Regions from separate parts of the Homo sapiens genome. Here region 1 is linked to region 2. Evidence: fine-mapped expression QTL. Tissue or cell type: whole blood. Region 2 holds a variant in brackets; the other region holds the start of a gene. All regions are shown on one strand. Distances are between the middles of the regions.

Region 1 (8,059 bases), 26 kb after region 2:
CAGGCCACGTGGTCCCCAACATGCCCCTCCACGGGGCTGCTCTCGGCCACAGCAGCCCACGGCAGGGAGGGGCCGCTCACGGTGGGGAGGGGTAGCCTGCCCTGGTCCTATTCACTGGTGTTCCTCCCAGGTTCTAACTTCCTGAGCTGGGCCGGTCCAGAGAACTCCCATTCCCACGCCACCCACAGGTGCTGATGCCGCGCTGGGGTAAGCGCTGCCCAGAGCACCTTCTGCCTAAGGCTTCCTCCTTGCAGGTGGGGCTGTCTGAGGCCCGTGGTGCTGGAGGCTGCCTCAGTCACTTCAGGGCACCCCTTGCCCTTCCCTCACCTTCAGCCATCCTACTCTGGGCCACAGCACAGTCGAATGTGGCTCAGTCCCCTCCACGGAGCCACAGCTTGCCTCAGTTTCCTCCTCAAGGACTAACAGCAGGTTCATTACAGGTGGGTCAGCTCATAAAGTCCAAGGCAGATGCCTCATCGGTGATCAGGCCCCATAACTGATGTCATCGTCAAGAAATAGGCACAGGTGGCCGGGCGCGGTGGCTCACGCCTGTCATCCCAGCACTGTGGGAGGCCGAGGCGGGCGGATCACCCAAGGTCGGAGTTTGAGACCAGCCTCAACGTGGAGAAACCTTATCTCTACTAGAAATACAAAATTAGCTGGGCACGGTGGCACATGCCTGTAATCCCAGCACTTTGGGAGGCCAAGGCAGGTGGATCACCTGAGGTTGGGCGTTTGAGACCAGCCTGACCAACATGGAGAAACCCTGTCTCTACTAAAAACACAAAATTAGCCGGGCGTAGTGGCACATGCCTGTAATCCCAGCTACTTGGGAGGCTGAGGCAGGAGAATTGCTTGAACCCGGGAGGCAGAGGTTGCTGTGAGCTGAGATTGCGCCACTGCAATCCAGCCTGGGCAACAAGAGCAAAACTCCATCTCAAAAACAAAACAAAACAAAACAAAAGAAATACACACAGGCAGCCGGGTGCAGTGGCTCACGCCTGTAATCCCAGCACTTTCAGAGGCTGAGCGGGCAGATCATCTGAGGTCAGGAGTTCAAGACCAGCCTGGCCAACATGGTGAAACCCCGTCTCTACTAAAAATACAAAAAATTAGCTGGGCGTGGTGGCGGGCGCCTGTAGTCCCAGCTACTCGGGAGGCTGAGGCAGGAGAACTGCTTGAACCCGGGAGGCGGAGGTTGCAGTGAGCCGAGATGGTGCCATTGCACTCCAGCCCAGGACTCTATCTCCAAAAAAAAAAGAAAGGAAGAAAAATAAGCACAGGCATGTGTGGAGACCTGGAGGCAGGGCTGCCCCTCACGAACCATCCACAATGCCAAGGAAACCAGAAGCAAACGTCCAGCAGCAGGGAGCGCAGGGCATGTGAAACCGACACTGAGGAAACAGCCACGGGAGAGAGCACACAGGGAGAAAGGAAGGCTCGGGCACTCCCTTGCTGTGGTTCAGGCCTGTTCTACCACCCCTGGGGTCACCATCGCCCACGGACCTTCCTGCTGGGTGCCTGTAGCACGGCACCTCCTGACAGGTCAGGTTTAAGGGAAGTTTGCTGGATAACTAAAATGAGGCTGGGGGGAGGAGGGAGCAGGGAGGAGCTAGCCCACAGGAGCCAATGCAGGCCTGACCCCACTGGTGCCGGACTGACTCAGGGAGAGTCATTAGGGCTGCTTTCTCAGGCTGGATGAGCACTGGGGGTTGGGGGCTTGCCCTGGCCCACCCCACCACTCAGGAAACCTTCCCTCAGCAGGACCTGCCCTGCACAGATCATGGGCAGCCTCCCTCTGCTCCCCACTTCCACAGCCCCAGACTCCATCTCAACCGCAGCCAGGAGTCACTGCTAACACCACAAAGGACCTGTTCCTGCACCAGCACGGGCCAGCTCTGGGGGCAGGTGCCCAGGACAGAGTCACGAGTGGCAAGCAGACAATAAACAACAGGCAAGATGGACAGACTGATTGCCGGGAGGATGTGGCAGGAGGCACTGGAACGGTGGTGGAGGAACCCCAGCCCTGGGGACAGACCTCCACCCGTGCACAGACCTCCAAGCTGGAGCCTGCTCTGGAACACTAAGGGCAGCAGCAGAGGTTGAAGAGGGGCAGACGCAGGAACGTTGGGGACACGCTCGGGGAACAGTGAGAAAAGCCCTAGGCTGGGGCAGAGGAAGTCCTCGATGGCACAAGCATCAGGACACAAAGTGCAAGAAATGTGCCTAAGACAAGAGGCAGTTCCAGGGCAGACCGGGGCCCCTGGAGAAGGGTGCTGCAATCTATCCTCACTGCCTGGAGCTTCCCTCCTGTCCCTTGGTAACCACACCAAAGAAAGATAACAACAGTCTCTGCCTCGTGGGACACAGCGAGGGCCACCGTGCCCAGCCCACCGTCTGTGCACAGGGCAGGCCCAGATGGCTGCTGCCACCAACCTGTGTCATCCAGGAGTGCCTTTCTCAAGAGCTCTCAGTGCTTATCTAGCGTTGGCCTGCCCCACCTCGGGTTAAATCAAAACCTCTTTGGTGGCTGGGCGCGGTGGCTCACGCCTGTAATCCCACGGAGGCCGAGGCGGGCAGATCACCTGAGGTCAGGAGTTGGAGACCAGCCTGGACAACCTGACAAAATACCTCTCTACTAAAAATACAAAAAAAAATTAGCCGGGCGTGGTGGCGCACACCTGTAATTCCAGCTACTCGGGAGGCTGAGGCAGGAGAATTGCTTGAACTGAGCTCGGGAAAGGGAGGTTGCAGTGAGCCGAGATCGAGCCACTGCACTCCAGCCTGGGCGACAGAGTGAGACTCCATCTCAAAACAAAAAAACAACGCCTCTTTGGAACCAGCAGAGGAACAGACTCAGGCCCTATTAGACTCCAGCCATGCAAAGTTCCTAGTCACTGCCCACTGGGAGGGTGTGGACCTGAAGGGACGCAGGGCCAGGGGAAAGCTCTTTCTGCTCAGCAGCTCCTGGAGAGGAGCGACCCTGTGCCGGGACACCCTTCCCCCTGCGGCATCCAGCGCAGCCCATCTCTGAGGGAGTCCTGGCTCACAGCGTTTCTGACAGGAGTCACAGCCTGAACCCAGGCAAGAGGCGCCTGAGTGGGAACAACCCCTTCCTGGGGACCCCGCGGGCTCCCCAAGGGACACTTCAGACCCGGAAGGGAGGGGCAGCGCCCAGAGCGCCCTCTTGCAGCCCCGGGCACTGCGTGGCCACCGCCCCCTGACGGCCACGGCCCCAAAGGCGCCGCGCAGGGCCCGGCTCCCAGAGGGGCCACTCGGGGTGACGAACCGGGGTGGGGGCGGGTTCCTCCCGCTGCACCCCCACAACTTCCCCACTTCATGCTCTTGCAAAGCCCCCGCAGAGGCTCGAAGGTGCCACGCGCGTGCGAGGCAATCCGAAGGCACCGTGCGCCGCAGCACCTCCAAATCCTAAGCCCTGGCCTCGCGGGTCGGGCAGGGCCACACCCCGAGCCGACAACATAGACCAACTCGCACAGTCGAGCAGGCACACAGCCCGCCGGGCGCTCGAGGCCGAGGGCCCCACCCACCGGGGGCAGAGACCAAGGTCAACGCTGGGGGTGCGCACCCGGACTCCTTCCCCGAGCCCCGAGGAGCCTGCCGGCTTGGGCCAGGTCCGTCCTCCCGGCCGCTTCAAGCCCGCGGGGTTCCACCCGGCACGTGGGAGAACGGGGCGCCGCCGCCTGGCCTCCGGGAGTGGGGGACTTGGGCTCGCGGCGGGGACGGACCACCCGCCCAGCTCGGCCGGATCTGCAGCCCCTTCCCGCTCGCCAGTGGAGTGGAGGCGAGGCCCACGCCTACCGGTCCTCGCACGCGGTCTCGCTTTTCTCAGCCTGCCGGCCTGGTGTGTCTCGGGCCGTAGGTGGCGACGTGGGCGAAGGATCAGCGTCCGCGCGGGCCGGGGGCGCAGCCATGGCGCTCGGAGGCCTCTTTGCGGGCCTGGCCGGGCGGCGCGCATGGGCCGCCGGGAGCTGGCGGGTCCCTCTCTTGCCCACCGCGGACTACAAGCCCCACAAGGCCGCGCGTCGCGGACTACAAGCCCCACAAGGCCGCGCGTCGCGGACTACAAGCCCCACAAGGCCGCGCGTCGCGGACTACAAGCCCCACAAGGCCGCGCGTCGCGGACTACAAGCCCCACAAGGCCGCGCGGCGGGCATGGGGGACCCGTAGTTCGGCAGCCTCCGCCACGTGCCTGGAGGGCCCCGCCCCCTGTTTTTCACCACAAACTGAGCCGCACAAAAACCCTGGAAAAAAATCAATAAACATTTATTTGATACAGTCATTTTAATACATACAGTGATGGCCCGTCCCCACGCCACTCGGGACCAGGGCGCGGGGCGGGGACGAGGACCGGGGACAGATGGTCACAAGGCGGGCGGGGCCCGAACTCACCGTTGAAACATCTCGCAAATAAACACTTTGTAGATAGAATATATATGTATATATATATGGTTACAAGTGATAGCTGGAACCTCTTTCAAAATGCACTTATGTACTGAGAACTGGCATTAAAAAACCCAAACCAAGAAACCCAAAGCACGGGACGCCCGGCCGCGAGGCAGGGGAAAGCCTGGGGCCCCAGACCCGGGCCTGGGGGAGCCGCCTGGGGCCCCGCCAAACGCGGCACACGGGGACGGCCCCTCCCGGGGTCAGGCTCACTGGCTCCTTCCCTTCAGCGCCACCAGGCAGGAGGGCCAACGGTCACACAGGAGGCACCCTCACCTGCCTTTGCACCAGCAAATAAAGTGCATCCCATTTTCGTGTGAGCGTCGGCCCGGTGAGTCAGCCCTTCCGGGCCCTTTCCTGTTCTCAGGGCAGGGGGCGTGCGCTGAGCCAGAGGTAGATCTGCAGAAAGGGCCCCGACTGGGCCTCGGGCAGGGCCGGCGCCCACCACACTCTGGGGGTCAGCTATGCTGGTCCCTCTCACTGAGGGCTCCTGGAGGCCTATGTGGGCCAGCGTAGGGAGTGGGCAGACCCTGCTGAGCTCCACCCAGGGCCCCACCCCTTGGGAGGAGGGCTCTGCGGACCAGCATGTGGCAGAGGGAGGGCAGAAAGGAGGGGGTCAGACCCAACAGCCACTTCTGGCAGTAGCCCCCACGCCTACCTTAAAGACAAAGGGGGTTAAAGTGCTAAACATCAAGGTATCCAGGACTCCTCTTCCCACACCAGGGATTATCTGTGGGCTTTGGGAGTGTCCCGGAAACTCACCCCCAGCAAAAACCAGACCCTCTTCTCTTCTCCCCAAGGGCCAAGTACCTGAGAGGCTGGGGCAGGCACCACACCCTGCAGGTGTTCAGGTCCACCCTCCTCCCGCCATTGGTGGCAAGGACAAAGTGCACCTAGGCCCCCGCCCAGTGCCTGCTCCCCTCCCCTCCCCTCCCCTCCCCTCATGAGGCTGCCCCAGCAGCAGCTGCCAGACCCCACCCTCCACCTCCGGCTCCTCCAGCTCCACCAGTGAAGCTCTGGGACACAGGAAGGAATGCCTCCCCCGACCCTCTGACGCTGGGTCACGCCCATCTCTGCCCCAGCCTCCATCCTCTCATCAGGCCGAGGTGTGCGTGGGTGGGGGGAGTCCGGGTCTCCACACCCACTCCCTGGCACATCTGGCAAGGGCTGCTGAGGGTTGGAGCCTTCTGGCCCAAGGATGAAGCCAGAGACAGGAAGTGTTCTGCAACCCCAGTCCCCAAAGTGCTCCTGGAACTTGTCTCCCTACTACTGCAGGCCAAGCCCAGTGGGGCCCCTTCTCCCTGGGGAATGGGGGAGGGTGGGTGCTGGGGGCAGAGGCAGTGCCCAGTCAGTACTGCCTCCCTGAGCAGCAAGGGACCCCAACCCCAGAGACCCACGCCCTGGTCCAGCCCAGCCCCCAGGCCCACCGTCTGCACCAGGAAACCCTTAGCACCAAATGTCGGATTGCGAGTGTTTGTATAAAAAACAATTTAAAAAAAAGGTTGTTACTTGTCACAGCAACAAGACTGGCATCCACTACACCCAGGAGACACACGCACACGGGCAAACATCAAAATTCTCATCGTCCAGGGTCAGTGGGGCCGAGCCCTCAGCCCACTCCCACCCACCCTGGAAAATGGCCTCCCTCCAAACCTACCCCCTCTGAGCCTCATCCTCCCTGCAATGCCGTGGTTGGAAGGCAGGACCCCAGGGAGGGAGCCACAGGCTGTGGCCACCTCTTCCAGGCACCCTGGACTCCCTGCCTGACCCCTGCCCTACCTATAGACCCAGCCGTCCTCAGGGCCACAAAGGGGCAAAGACAGCTCTGGAGCTGCCATCAACCTGCTGTGACTTTGGCCAAGCCCCTCCCCTGGCTGGCCTTCAGTTCCCATATCAAATGACCACACAACCAGAAACAATGGGGGCAGGTTAAAAAAAAAAGTGGGGAGGGGGCTCCCATGAGAGCTTGGCCACTGGGCCTACCCAGATTGGCAGACAGAAGGCTGCCTTTCCCCCAGTGGCCACTCAGAGCCAGGCCAGCTCTGCCCAGCTTCCTGCCCCACATGCCTATGGGCCCCAGCAAGACCCCAGGGCCCGAACTAGTCCGTCCCTACTCCACGAGGCTGCTCCAACCTAGGCCTGCAGTGCCAGAAGGCTGAACACTGGAGGAGAGCACACTCCAGGGGCCCCACACCCCCAGGGCTGGCAGCTGTGTTGAAGGGCATCAAGCTTCTGCTGCCCTGTAGGTACAAGAAGCAAAACCCCTCCCTTGCCCCAAGCTGGGAGAATTACAGACAGGCCTGGGGGGCAGGGCCTGAGCACAGCAGGGATCGCACTGACAAAGGAGGAGCAGGGGTGGGGGTAGTGGGCAGGCCTGGAGAGGTAGAAAACAGAAGCAAGGGGACCAAGTGGGTGGCCAAGGGCAGGCCGGAGCCTGTCAGGTCAGCATGGCAGTGGTCAGACAGGGGTCTGTCCTGGGAGGTAGCTGGGGGTGCTGGAGTTCCAGTGTTGGGTGGAGGTGAGGCCAGGATGGTGGCTGCCCGTGCCAGGTTGCTCAGGTGCCCTCACCAGCCCAGAACCACAGGTCACCAGGGATGCCTGAGCCTTGGGGTAGCCAGGGAAGGGACCCGGCAGGGCCTGAGGAAGCGGAGCCGGGGGGCCAAAGGCCATCTGCCTACTCTGCGCTGCAGCCCCTGTGGCACCAAGACCCCAGACACATTCCCATGAGGAGGGGCAACCCTCCTGGCTATTGCACTTCTGCTGGGCACACCTTGGGGAGCCCCAACCCAGGTGTGCCCTGTGGCAGCCTTAACAGGGGAAGGGCCACCTTCAGGGAAGGGAGAGTGGCTGGCTGCCCCACTGGACGGATGAAGAGGCGGGGGTGGGGGATGGAGAACTGGAGGACAGAGGTCCCGGAGCTGGCCCTGCCTTGAACAGAGGGCGGTGTGGCGGCTGCATGGGGGCCAGGCCCCACGCACCATGCTCACTTTTCAGGCGCCTTGCTGACTCCCACCTTCCGGCCGGTGGAGCCCCGGGCCCCCTTGTCTCTGCATCCTGGAGGCCAGTCGTCCCGGCGCGGGGGCAGCTTGGCCACAGGCTCCTCTGGGGTCCGCTCCTTGGGCTTTCGGCCCCGCTTCTTTCCACCTGCCAGATTTTTCTTCTTTTCCTTCTTGGGCACCAATGAGTCCTGGCTCCTGTGTTTGGGAGGTGGGTCTGCTGATGTTCGGAACCAGTTCTGGGGAGAGAAAAGCGCTGATGAAGACCTGGGACTGGATGCTGAGCACCTGAGCCAGGCATAGCCTGAGAGCTGAAGACCTGTCAGCCTTCAGGACCAGGCAAGCACCTGCAGCAGGGCTGGACACAGCCTTTAGGACCAGGCAGGCACCTGCAGCAGGGGGCTGAACACAGCCTTCGGGACCAGGCAAGCACCTGCAGGGGGCTGGACACAGCCTTCGGGACCAGGCAAGCACCTGCAGCAGGGCTGGACACAGCCTTCGGGACCAGGCAAGCACCTGCAGCAGGGCTGGACACAGCCTTCTGGACCAGGCAAGCACCTGCAGCAGGGGGCTGGACACAGCCTTCAGGACCAGGCAGG
Region 2 (10,073 bases):
GAACCCGCCCCATCTGCCTGGCATTCAGCTGCCTCCTGCCAGTATCACCGAGATCGCGTCACCGCACTCCAGCCTGGGCAACAAAGCGAGACTATCTCAAAACCCCATATTGATGTCATTTCCTAAATATTTGGTTAAAAAAAAAATCTGGGCCTGGAATTTTATCTGGTTTTTTTTTTTTTTTTTTTTGAGACGGAGTCTCGCTGTGTCGCCCAGGCTGGAGTGCAGTGGTGCGATCTCTGCTCACTGCAAGCTCCGCCTTCCGGGTTAACGTCATTCTCCTGCCTCAGCCTCCCGAGTAGCTGGGACTACAGGTGCCTGCCACCACTTCCGGCTAATTTTTTTGTATTTTTATTAGAGATGGGGTTTCACTGTGTTAGCCAGGATGGTCTCAATCTCCTGATCTCGTGATCTGCCCGCCTTGGCCTCCCAAAGTGCTGGGATTACAGGCGTGAGCCACGGCGCCTGGCCTTCTGGGGATTTTTTATTACAAATATAACTTTATTAACAGATGCAGGCCTATTCAGATTTTCTATTTCATGTCAGTCTTGGTAAATTGTAATTTTCAAGATATTTGTCCATTTCATCTAATTTTTCTAATTTCTTGGCATGAAGTTGTTCGTATTTTATCCTTTTCACGCCTCTAGGATCTGTAGTGATGTCTTTCCTCATGTTGCTCAAAGAACCAACTCTTTTGGCTTTGTTGAAGTTATCTGTTTGTTTTCATGGATTTCTGTTCCTTATGATTTCCTTGCTTGCATTTATGTTGGGTTTATCCTGTTACTTTGTAGCTTCCTGAGGCGGAGCCTTAGGCCTTGATTAACGTGTTGTACTAGTCAGCATTCTGCAGAGGAACGTTGCCATTATCTGTGTCTCTTTCTAAAGGAGATTTGTTATGAGGAATTGGCCCACGTCATTATGGAGACGGAATCTCATGCTCTGCCATTTGCTGAAGATTGAGGAAAGCAGTGGGATAATAACAGTCCAAGGACAGGAGGAGACACGTGGCCCCGCTCAGGCTGGCAGGCGAGAAGGAAAACCCAGGCCAACTCCTCCTCCCACCCCTTTCTATTCGGGACCCCCGTGGACTGGGACGACACTCACCTGCACAGGGCAGCGCAGTTGGCTTCATGGAGCCCCCAGCTCAGGTGCTGCTCTTACCAAGAAACACCCTCCCAGGCACACCCTGAAGTCATGTTTCATCTGGGTGCCCCACGATGCAGCAAAGGAGACATGAAATTAACCGTCATGTACACTGTATTTATTATTCAATTCAAAACATTTTCTAAGTTCCCCTGGGATTTCTTCTTTGAGCTACATGTTAGCCGGAGGTGTGTTGTTGAATATCAAGAGTATCTTCCTCCTGGGTTTCCAGTTTGTAGCTAAGTCAGGGATAGTGCTGTGTGTGACCTCATTCCATTACGTTTATTGAAACCAGCTTGAAGCCCTAACATGTGGCTTGTCTTAGTGTACAGCATTCAGTTAAAAACAATGTGTGTTCTCTAGATGTTGGGTGTTCTGTGACTGTCACGTCATGGTGGTTGATTAGTTAGAAACAATGTAGAAACAATGTGTATTTGCCAGGCGCTGTGGCTCACACCTATAACCCCAGCACTGTGGGAGGCTGAGGCAGGCGGATCACCTGAGGTCGGGAGTTCAGCCTGAGGTCGGGAATTCAAGACCAGCCTGGCCAACATGGAGAAACCCCATCTCTACTAAAAATACCAAAATTAGCTGGGTGTGGTGGCACATGCCTGTAATCCCAGCTACTCCTGTGTGAGGCTGAGGCAGGAGCATTGCTTGAACCGGGGAGGCGGAGGTTGTGGTGAGCCGAGATCGTGCCATTGCACTCCAGCCTGGGCAACAAGAGCAAAACTGTCCCCCCCCCCAAAAAAGAAAGAAAGAAACTGTGTGTTCTCTAGATGTTGGGTGTTCTGTGAAGATCAGGTCATGGTGGTTGATAGTGTTGTTCAGAACATCGATGTTTTTCCTGATTTTTGGTCTGTTCTGTCGATTTCTGAGAAAGTATTAAAATTAAAGTTGGGTCTTGCATTTTTATCCATTCTGTCAGTCCCTTACTTTAATTGGAGTTTTTTGTCCACTAACATTGAATTTAATTGTTGATATGTTTGGATTTAGATCTTCCAACTAATTTTCTATTTGTTTCCTGTGTTGAGTTACTTTTTCATTTTTCTTGTAACTTTTTAGCTTATACCTCTTTGCATTTTTTATGCAGAGGTTGCTGTAAGGATTACAATATGCATGTTTATTTTAATTAATTAATTTATTTTGTTTATTTATATATTTGTTTTTAAGGAACAGGGTCCCTGTCTCCTGGGCTCCAGTGCAGTGGAGTGATCATAGCTCACTGCAGCCTCAAACTCCTGGGCTCAAGCGGTCCTCCCGCCTCAGCCTCCCAAAATGCTGGGACTACAGGTGTGAGCCCCTGTGCCGGCCCACAGTACACAGCTGCAGTTCTTCAGGATCTCTTGGGGTGGCCGTATTCTGCCGTCTCACACTTCTCCATGCCATGGCGTCTGTCTGTGCACGTGGCAAACTCCACAAGGCAGTGTTGGATTCTTTTGCTTTGAACGGTCTTATGGAATAAAGTCCATCAGCTCTGCCCTTGGTACTTTCATCTATACTTTGTGATACTTTCTTTTTATTTTTTCTTCTAGAATAGCCTAACATGGCAGACCAGAGACAGCGCTCACTGTCTACCTCTGGGGAGTCATTGTACCACGTCCTTGGGTTGGACAAGAACGCAACCTCAGATGACATTAAAAAGTCCTATCGGTAAGTGGACAAGTGTGGCCCCCACATCCCCCCAGGAAGACACACATGCCCCGTGTGGTTTAGTCTGCATTTTACCAAGAACCATTGCACATACTTTATCCTGGCCGACTCAGCGTTGAACTGGTCACAGCTCGGTAACACCTTTGTATGTGTAATGTGCTCCTTATAGCTTAAAGTTATGGTATTCATGTTCTCTTGCCAACAAAAAATAGCACTTAGTAGAAACTGACACACTGTCCACAGTTCCATAGGGAGTCAGGGTCTGAACCTGTTTGAGGCCTCACAGGAGCCGCAGAGCGCTGGCATGGTCCTGTGGTCTCCTTGTTTTAGCACAGTGATGACAGAGACCCCTCACTCTGTTGTGGCCTTCTGATTGAGCTTGAAGAACTGCACTCTTGGGTACAGTTTCATTGAGTAACCTGTAAGAGACACCATCACTAATCCAGACAATTCAGATAGTCCTCCTCTCGTGTGCTAGCATCGTGTAGTTCATAAAACACTTCTTAAAGTGCCATCATTACGCCCCGCCGTGCTTACCGTTCACTTGGCACTTGTGCAGTTAGCGGCTGGGACACCAGGGCTGGCCTTGGTGCCGCTGAACTTAGATGTGCCGTGGCACTCACAGCCCTTGGGGCTCCCTCCTCTGAGGCTGGGTCAGGGTGAGGAGGTTTACCTGAAACAACCGCGGAGCTTGCTTTTGTCCCTGGCCCCTGCAGCCCTGGAGAGTCGGACAGTGAGGTGGCCTGGGTGGACCTGCCTTCCACTGCACCCGGCAGTGCGTGCGGGTGGGATGGACGCGGCGGCGGGTGCGGGTGGAACAAAGTCCAGGGTAGAGCCAGGACATGGTTTTGGTTTGCAGGAAGCTTGCCTTGAAATATCACCCCGACAAGAACCCCGACAACCCGGAGGCCGCGGACAAGTTTAAGGAGATCAACAACGCGCACGCCATCCTCACGGACGCCACAAAAAGGAACATCTACGACAAGTACGGCTCGCTGGGTCTCTACGTGGCCGAGCAGTTTGGGGAAGAGAACGTGAACACCTACTTCGTGCTGTCCAGCTGGTGGGCCAAGGTGAGGGCGAGCTGCCTGCCGTGCGGGCACCCGAGTCACTCCTGCCGTGCGGGCACCCGAGTCTCTCCTGCCGTGCGGGCACCCGAGTCACTCCTGCCGTGCGGGCACCCGAGTCTCTCCTGCCGTGCGGGCACCCGAGTCTCTCCTGCCGTGCGGGCACCCGAGTCACTCCTGCCGTGCGGGCGCCCGAGTCACTCCTGCCGTGCGGGCACCCGAGTCTCTCCTGCCATGTGGGCACCCGGGTCACTCCACGCCTGCAGGGTTCCCAGCATTGCAGAGCCCATGCGTTGATGCCAGCAACTCTACACTCCTGAGAAAAGGCTTCTGGGCATATGGAGCCTTTCTCCTCACCTGTGTGATGGGCGAAGCTCTGTCACTGGCTTGGTGTCCTGCCTGGAACAAGCCATAGCGTACAGATTGTCCCAGGGAAGAGCCGTGCGGAGCCGCCAGGGTTTCTTCTGTAAATGGCTCCCAGTCCTTCGTGAGACAGGAGGAAATAAGCCTCGATGTTACATCCGCATTTCTTCGTTTCCTCGTTTTGTTCCAAATGTCATATATGAGGCCAGAGGGTTGGAATCACTGCATGGCATTTGTGAGAAGCCTGTATTTGGCTTTGACTGGTCGGCCTCCTCACTAGAATCCTTATAAAGTACTTTTTATTTAGTTAATGTTAGACAGAGTCTCGCTCTGTTGCCCAGACTGGAGTGCTGTGGTGAGATCCTGGCTCACTTTAACTTTGAATTCCTGGGTTCAAGTGATCCTCCCACTTCAGCTCCAGAACTGCAGGAGTTGAGGCGTGAACCACTGTGCCCAGCCTGGAGGCTGCTTTGTTTTTTTTTTGAGACGGAGTCTCGCTCTGTTTCCCAGGCTGGAGTGCAGTGGCGCGATCTTGGCTCACTGCAAGCTCCACCTCCCGGGTTCACGCCATTCTCCTGCCTCTGCCTCCCGAGTGGCTGGGACTACAGGTGCCCGCCACCACGTCCAGCTAATTTTTTGTATTTTTAGTAGAGACAGGGTTTCACCGTGTTAGCCAGGATGGTCTCGATCTCCTGACCTCGTGATCCGCCAGCCTCGGCCTCCTGGAGTGCTGGGATGACAGGCATGGGCCACCACGCCCGTCTTGGAGGCTGCTTTTCTTTAAGCTGCGGGTTTCTTTCTGTCTCTCCTCCTCCCTTCTTCAGTTCTTTCCTTCTGCTTCCTGTCTGGAAGGCAGTATCCCCACCTGGAACGCACCCCCTGCCTTCTGCTGAGGGCATTTGGGAGTCCTGCGCCTCCCTCTCCAGGGGCCTCGGAGGCCATGCAACACCACCTTCTTCTCCCCCCAGGCCCTGTTTGTCTTCTGCGGCCTCCTCACGTGCTGCTACTGCTGCTGCTGTCTGTGCTGCTGCTTCAACTGCTGCTGCGGGAAGTGTAAGCCCAAGGCGCCTGAAGGCGAGGAGACGGAGTTCTACGTGTCCCCCGAGGATCTGGAGGCACAGCTGCAGTCTGACGAGAGGGGTGAGTGCCCGCCCCAGGGCC[C/T]GTGTGTGTGTGTGGGGCAGAGCCAGAATGGGCCCTGAATGGTGTCAACCTGTCTTGTCAAACAGGAGGGCACTGACACTGTGCCGCGAGTGTTTGTGGTGGCAGCTGGGACTGTTGAGGTGTGAACGTGGACCCTGAGGTAAAGCAGGCGCATAGAGCTGTCCCCGCCGTGACCTGCGGTAGCCGTAGATCCCAGGGACTGCGAGGCGGGGCAGGGCGGCAGGCAGTTGGGGCGGGGCTGAGGGCCGAGGGCTGGCGGTGACCCAAGGCGACGGAGGAAAGCCGTGTGGGGTGGAGGTCAGCGAGTAGCCTCTCCCGGTGGAGAGTTTGTCCAGGTGCCCGAAAGTCGCTCCACAGGACCAGCGTTGGGTGCGCGCCAGGCTGTGGCCCTCGTGCAGTGCCCTGTGTGCTTGCTTTTCAGAGGCCACAGACACGCCGATCGTCATACAGCCGGCATCCGCCACCGAGACCACCCAGCTCACAGCCGACTCCCACCCCAGCTACCACACTGACGGGTTCAACTAAATCCAGGAGGAGCTGTGGTCAGAGGAGGAGCCGGCGCCTGGCCACGCCAACCTTAGAATCATGAACTGTAGTCACAGAGATGGGAAGGCAGCCTCCTGCCTGCCCTGGCCTTGCTGGGGCCCCTCCTGCCTCCACGCCCACCCAGCGTCGACCCTTGACCCACGAAGTGCGTAGCATGCAGTATTTAAAGCAGTGTAGCTACGGTCTTCTGTTTTTTTCCCTTTTTTAATAGCATGTATGGGGTTCTGTTCCATGTCTGTGTTGTGGACATTCCGCGGCATGACCGCGTGAACTGCACGGTGGAGCTGCCTCAGGGCTGTCGGTCAGGTTGGTCCAGTGAGGGGTGACTGCAGCCGGTCAGGTGGGCGAGGAGAAGGGGGGCTGCCCCTTTCCTACCTGTGCTTGAGGGGCCGGAGGCAGGTGCTGCCTGGCAGAGCTGTGTTACCGTCTTGGCCTCGGGGTCTGGTCCACACTCTGTGCTCCCAGCCTTGAGGCTGCAGTAGGACTCTGATCTCACCTGCCAGAAGAGAGGCGGGGCCGCGTCCTCCTGGCGTCACCGGCGTCACTGTCATTCCTTGGTGTCTGTGCTGGGCATGGTTGGCTTGGGGGTCTGTGGTTTCCTGGGCCTTGTGGCAGGGTTTCTCCCGTGGGAGAATTTGGTGTGGAAAGCATAGGAGGCCCCTTCCGAGGTTGACACCGTGTCCTCCGCGGTGTTTCTCGCCTGGTCGTCTCGTCGTGTGGACGCTGCCGTTCTGGTTCTCGGAGGTGTGTCCTTCGCCGTGTTGGGGTTATTTGTCTGTGTTCCTGCACTTTTCCCGGGCTCTGAGCTGGATTGATGGGGCCAGTCTCCCCCCTCCCATCTTGAGGTCGTTCTCCACATTCCTTCCAGCACACCTGTCCTTTCCATAGCCCTTTTTGGACCTTTAGAACCACAGATGATAGGACCAGCCCAATGAGCCACAGTCAGAGAGTAGATTGTGCATGTGTGAGCACCCAGCTACTGGGGACGGGGGCTCTCCCACGACCCCTCCTCCTGTGTTTGCCAGAGCTCCCATCTGCCCCACTCGCCTTTGCCCCGTCATCGATGATTCAGGCAGAGCCAGATTCGTTAGGTCCCTGGAGGAAGGACTGACTGGACCAGAGGGACCCTCTGGCTCAGGAGGGTTGGGTCCCTGGGAGGCCGGCAGCCAGGCCACAGAATCCACACGTGGACCATTGTGGGTCCCTGGGAGGCCGGCAGCCAGGCCACGGAATCCACACGTGGACCATTGTGGGTCCCTTGGGAGGCCAGCAGCCAGACTACGGAATCCACATGTGGACCATGGGAAGTCAGTCTCTTGCGTGTCCTAGACCTTGTGGGTGGCGCCCTGCATAGGGGAGCAGGGGGAACGGGTCTGATGTCCCTGTGCTGGCTGAGGGCTCAGAGCTGCCCGCACTCCGTAGCTCATGGGATGTGCTGGGCCTGCCTTTGGCGCCATGCTGCAGACTCCAGTGGGCCTGGTTTCTGCAGAATGTCCATGGTGGCCGCTGCAGAGTTGCAGAGGTCCCTGTAGAGATAAAGCTGAGGAGGAGGCTGTGTGTGATGGCTCTGGCTCGGACCAACCAGATGAGCCTCCTGAAGCCCCCTTCCCTGCCTGCCTGCTGACCCGTGGCCCCAGCTCACTCATTGCCCTCAGCAGCCACCCGAGGCTGTGCAGAAGGGTAGGTTCAGGTTGACCAGGAAGCTGCCAAAAGGGACATGGATATGAGGATACATCTGGACGTGCTTAGGAACAGGGTGCTGGTTGAGGGCCCCCAGCTGACCCCTACTGCAGATCCGCATGTGGACCATGAGCCGGCTGCCAGCACTAGGTCCTGGGCAGCTTTGTTTGTCCCACTTTTCTTTGTTTCTTCTCACTAAAATGATCACGAAGACCTTTGACAAGAGGAGAGATATGCACTGTGATATTAAATTAGAAATAATTTATCAAAATCAGACCTCTCCTAAAAGAATAAGAAATTCATTGTTTGGCCCATCCTGAAAGGTGAGGTGGCGAGACAGTGGGGTGCCTCCGTGCCGCTTCGTGCAGCAGCAAGTTCAGCCTGAGATGCTGGCTGTACTCAGCCTTTGCAATTTTTGTAGATGTAGCTTAGGACGTGAGTTATTTTTCCGCAGACTGGCCAAGAGCCAGGTTCTAAGCTTGGACCTAAGGTAGAAAGCTGCCCATCGGGGGCCCTAGCTCAGCCCCACCAGGCCCTCTGTTGGGCCTGCACACAGCTCTGTGGCTAGAACACTCCAAGGCCCTTCGGTACCCATCAGAGTGGGCCCCTTGCCAGGTGGCTTTTCAGTTACAGAGTCCAGTGGACCATTTTGTAGAACCATGCAGCTCCCTGCGGAAGGTGGGGTAGGGTGGGAAAGAGGAGCAGGTCTGGAGGTTTGTGGAACCCAGTCCCCTGCAGAATCTGTAAAACCTAATAAATCATGGTTGTGGCCATTCTCACGGTGGTGATTGTGATTAGACGACCCCCGGGAAGCCCAGACACTCGGGGCCTGGAGTTCCTCCCCCTGCCTGACCTAGAAGCAGAACCGTTTTCAGCGCTCTGCCCTGTTGGCTTTAAGGCTTTGTCTTAATTTAAGGAAAAAGATCCTCCCGGGTTTTATTTCTCTCTTTCTTGAGTGGACTGTTTCCCTATAATTAAAAGAGGTGGTGAGTCCTGGGGCAGCTTCCGCGCCTCCCTGTCCACGTGCTAACAGATCAGGACGCCCCCAGCACCCCTGCCTGCTTTTGCTGGTGGCAGTGACGGGACCCCGACTCCTCACTCTCGGGCCGCAGACAATGCTGTGAGCAAGTGTGGCCATGGGCACAGAATGTCCCTTTGGACGCCGCTGCTGGGGGCTGCCAGGGGCCCTCTGGGGTCGTGCTTTGAGGCCCGTCCGGTTCACGAGGGGGTCCGGGCAGCACTGACTGCTTCCGACCTGCAGGAGGCGTAGGAGCGGCCCTGCGGGCCCTTTCACGGCAGCTGCTGCTGTATAGATTTGTCTCCACTCAGTGACGTGGGATTTTTTTGTCTTCCTTTTGGCTTTATTTTTAAACTGCTTTAGATATTACTGCTCAGTGTTTGTGAACTTTCCTAGTTCTCTATGTTGTTAGTGCAGCCAGCACCCAGTGGGGACCTACTAGAAAAAGGAACTGGCATGCACACGTGCCCAGCAGGAAAAGCTTCGTCTTCACGTCGGCTGCTGCCATCCAGAAGAGGCCCTGGAGCCTCACGCCGTCGAGGCTGCTCTCAGGCGTTCTGTTCCGGGCGAGGCTTGTGCTGCAAGGAAGGGCACCAGCATGCAGGCTGCCACTGGAGGGTCCGGGTGCTGCGGGCAGAGTTCAGCGCTTGTCCACCCTCCCTTAGCTCTGACTCAGTGCATCCTACTGTGGGGACATCTCGTGAGGGGACACGAAATGACTGATCTCACCCTTTCCCAGTATTCAGAGCTGTGAACCCCTGTGGCGCAGGACTGGCCTGTGTCTGTTATTTTGGTTGTAAATCATTCTCCTGTGGAATTGGCAAAAGCTACATTTTTACTGTCCTTACCAGCAACAGTTTGCGTCGTCACATGCTGTGAGTGTGGGCTGTGGTGTGTCCGTGTGTGTACATATGTGTATATGTATATATCACGCAGCAGGAGTGTCATTCATGCTGCTGTCCCCTGGTGAAGTGACAAGTACAATTAAAGGTGGCTCTGAAATGGCCTCTGGTTTCTTGGGAGTCGGGCAGGGACCTGCAGGAGGCTTTCCCAGCAGGTGCACAGAAGGAAGCGCTGAGCCCACTGTGTGCAGAGGGTGTGTGCCCAGGGCACTGCCACGGCCCCCACCAGCATTGGCCTCTGCTCTGCAGGGTGGGGTGCCCATCCTGGGGGCTGTGTGTCATGCTCACCTGACCCAGGTGTGTGTCCCGGTGTGAAATCGAGGAGGGGACTGGAAGCCCTTCCCTGCCTTGAAACATGAAAGCTGATTTTCTGAGCAGCAGATACGGTCAGTGGCAAAGCTGCATCTGAAGGGCGGCCTGGGAAGGGGCCCTGTGCTGGCCCCGGGTCCGCCCCAGAGGAGTCCACACAGCACCACCTCCAGAAGGGGCTGGGCCCGGGGTCCTGCAGGCGGCACCTTTTGGTAGAGTTTGTTTCCCTGG

Evidence for each region. PIP is the estimated chance that this variant, and not a neighbour inherited with it, causes the effect.
Region 1: UCKL1 starts here. The variant in region 2 is fine-mapped to the expression of UCKL1 in whole blood (TOPMed, PIP above 0.99). The same link has a PIP of 0.9 or more in blood mononuclear cells.

The regions. Positions count from the first base shown.
Region 1 is chr20:63,952,441-63,960,499 of GRCh38, forward strand. It overlaps UCKL1 (uridine-cytidine kinase 1 like 1), which reads right to left and starts at 3,976. Exons shown (of 15, transcript NM_017859.4): 1 at 3,820-3,976. The coding sequence starts at 3,932. ZNF512B (zinc finger protein 512B) reads right to left here. Exons shown (of 17, transcript NM_020713.3): 17 at 4,264-7,699. The coding sequence ends at 7,448. It overlaps UCKL1-AS1 (UCKL1 antisense RNA 1), which reads left to right and starts at 944. Exons shown (of 1, transcript NR_027287.2): 1 at 944-4,545. RefSeq lists silencers at 3,063-3,372, 3,423-3,472, 3,573-3,942, 4,533-4,742 and enhancers at 4,073-4,132, 4,162-5,049, 5,050-5,935.
Region 2 is chr20:63,925,657-63,935,729 of GRCh38, forward strand. It overlaps DNAJC5 (DnaJ heat shock protein family (Hsp40) member C5), which reads left to right. Exons shown (of 5, transcript NM_025219.3): 2 at 2,679-2,796; 3 at 3,656-3,869; 4 at 5,195-5,366; 5 at 5,809-10,073. The coding sequence starts at 2,690. The coding sequence ends at 5,912. Among named protein-coding and RNA genes, the nearest start is that of MIR941-5, 11 kb to the left of the region's middle. RefSeq lists an enhancer at 6,580-7,081. The variant C/T (reference allele first, on the strand shown) is at 5,388.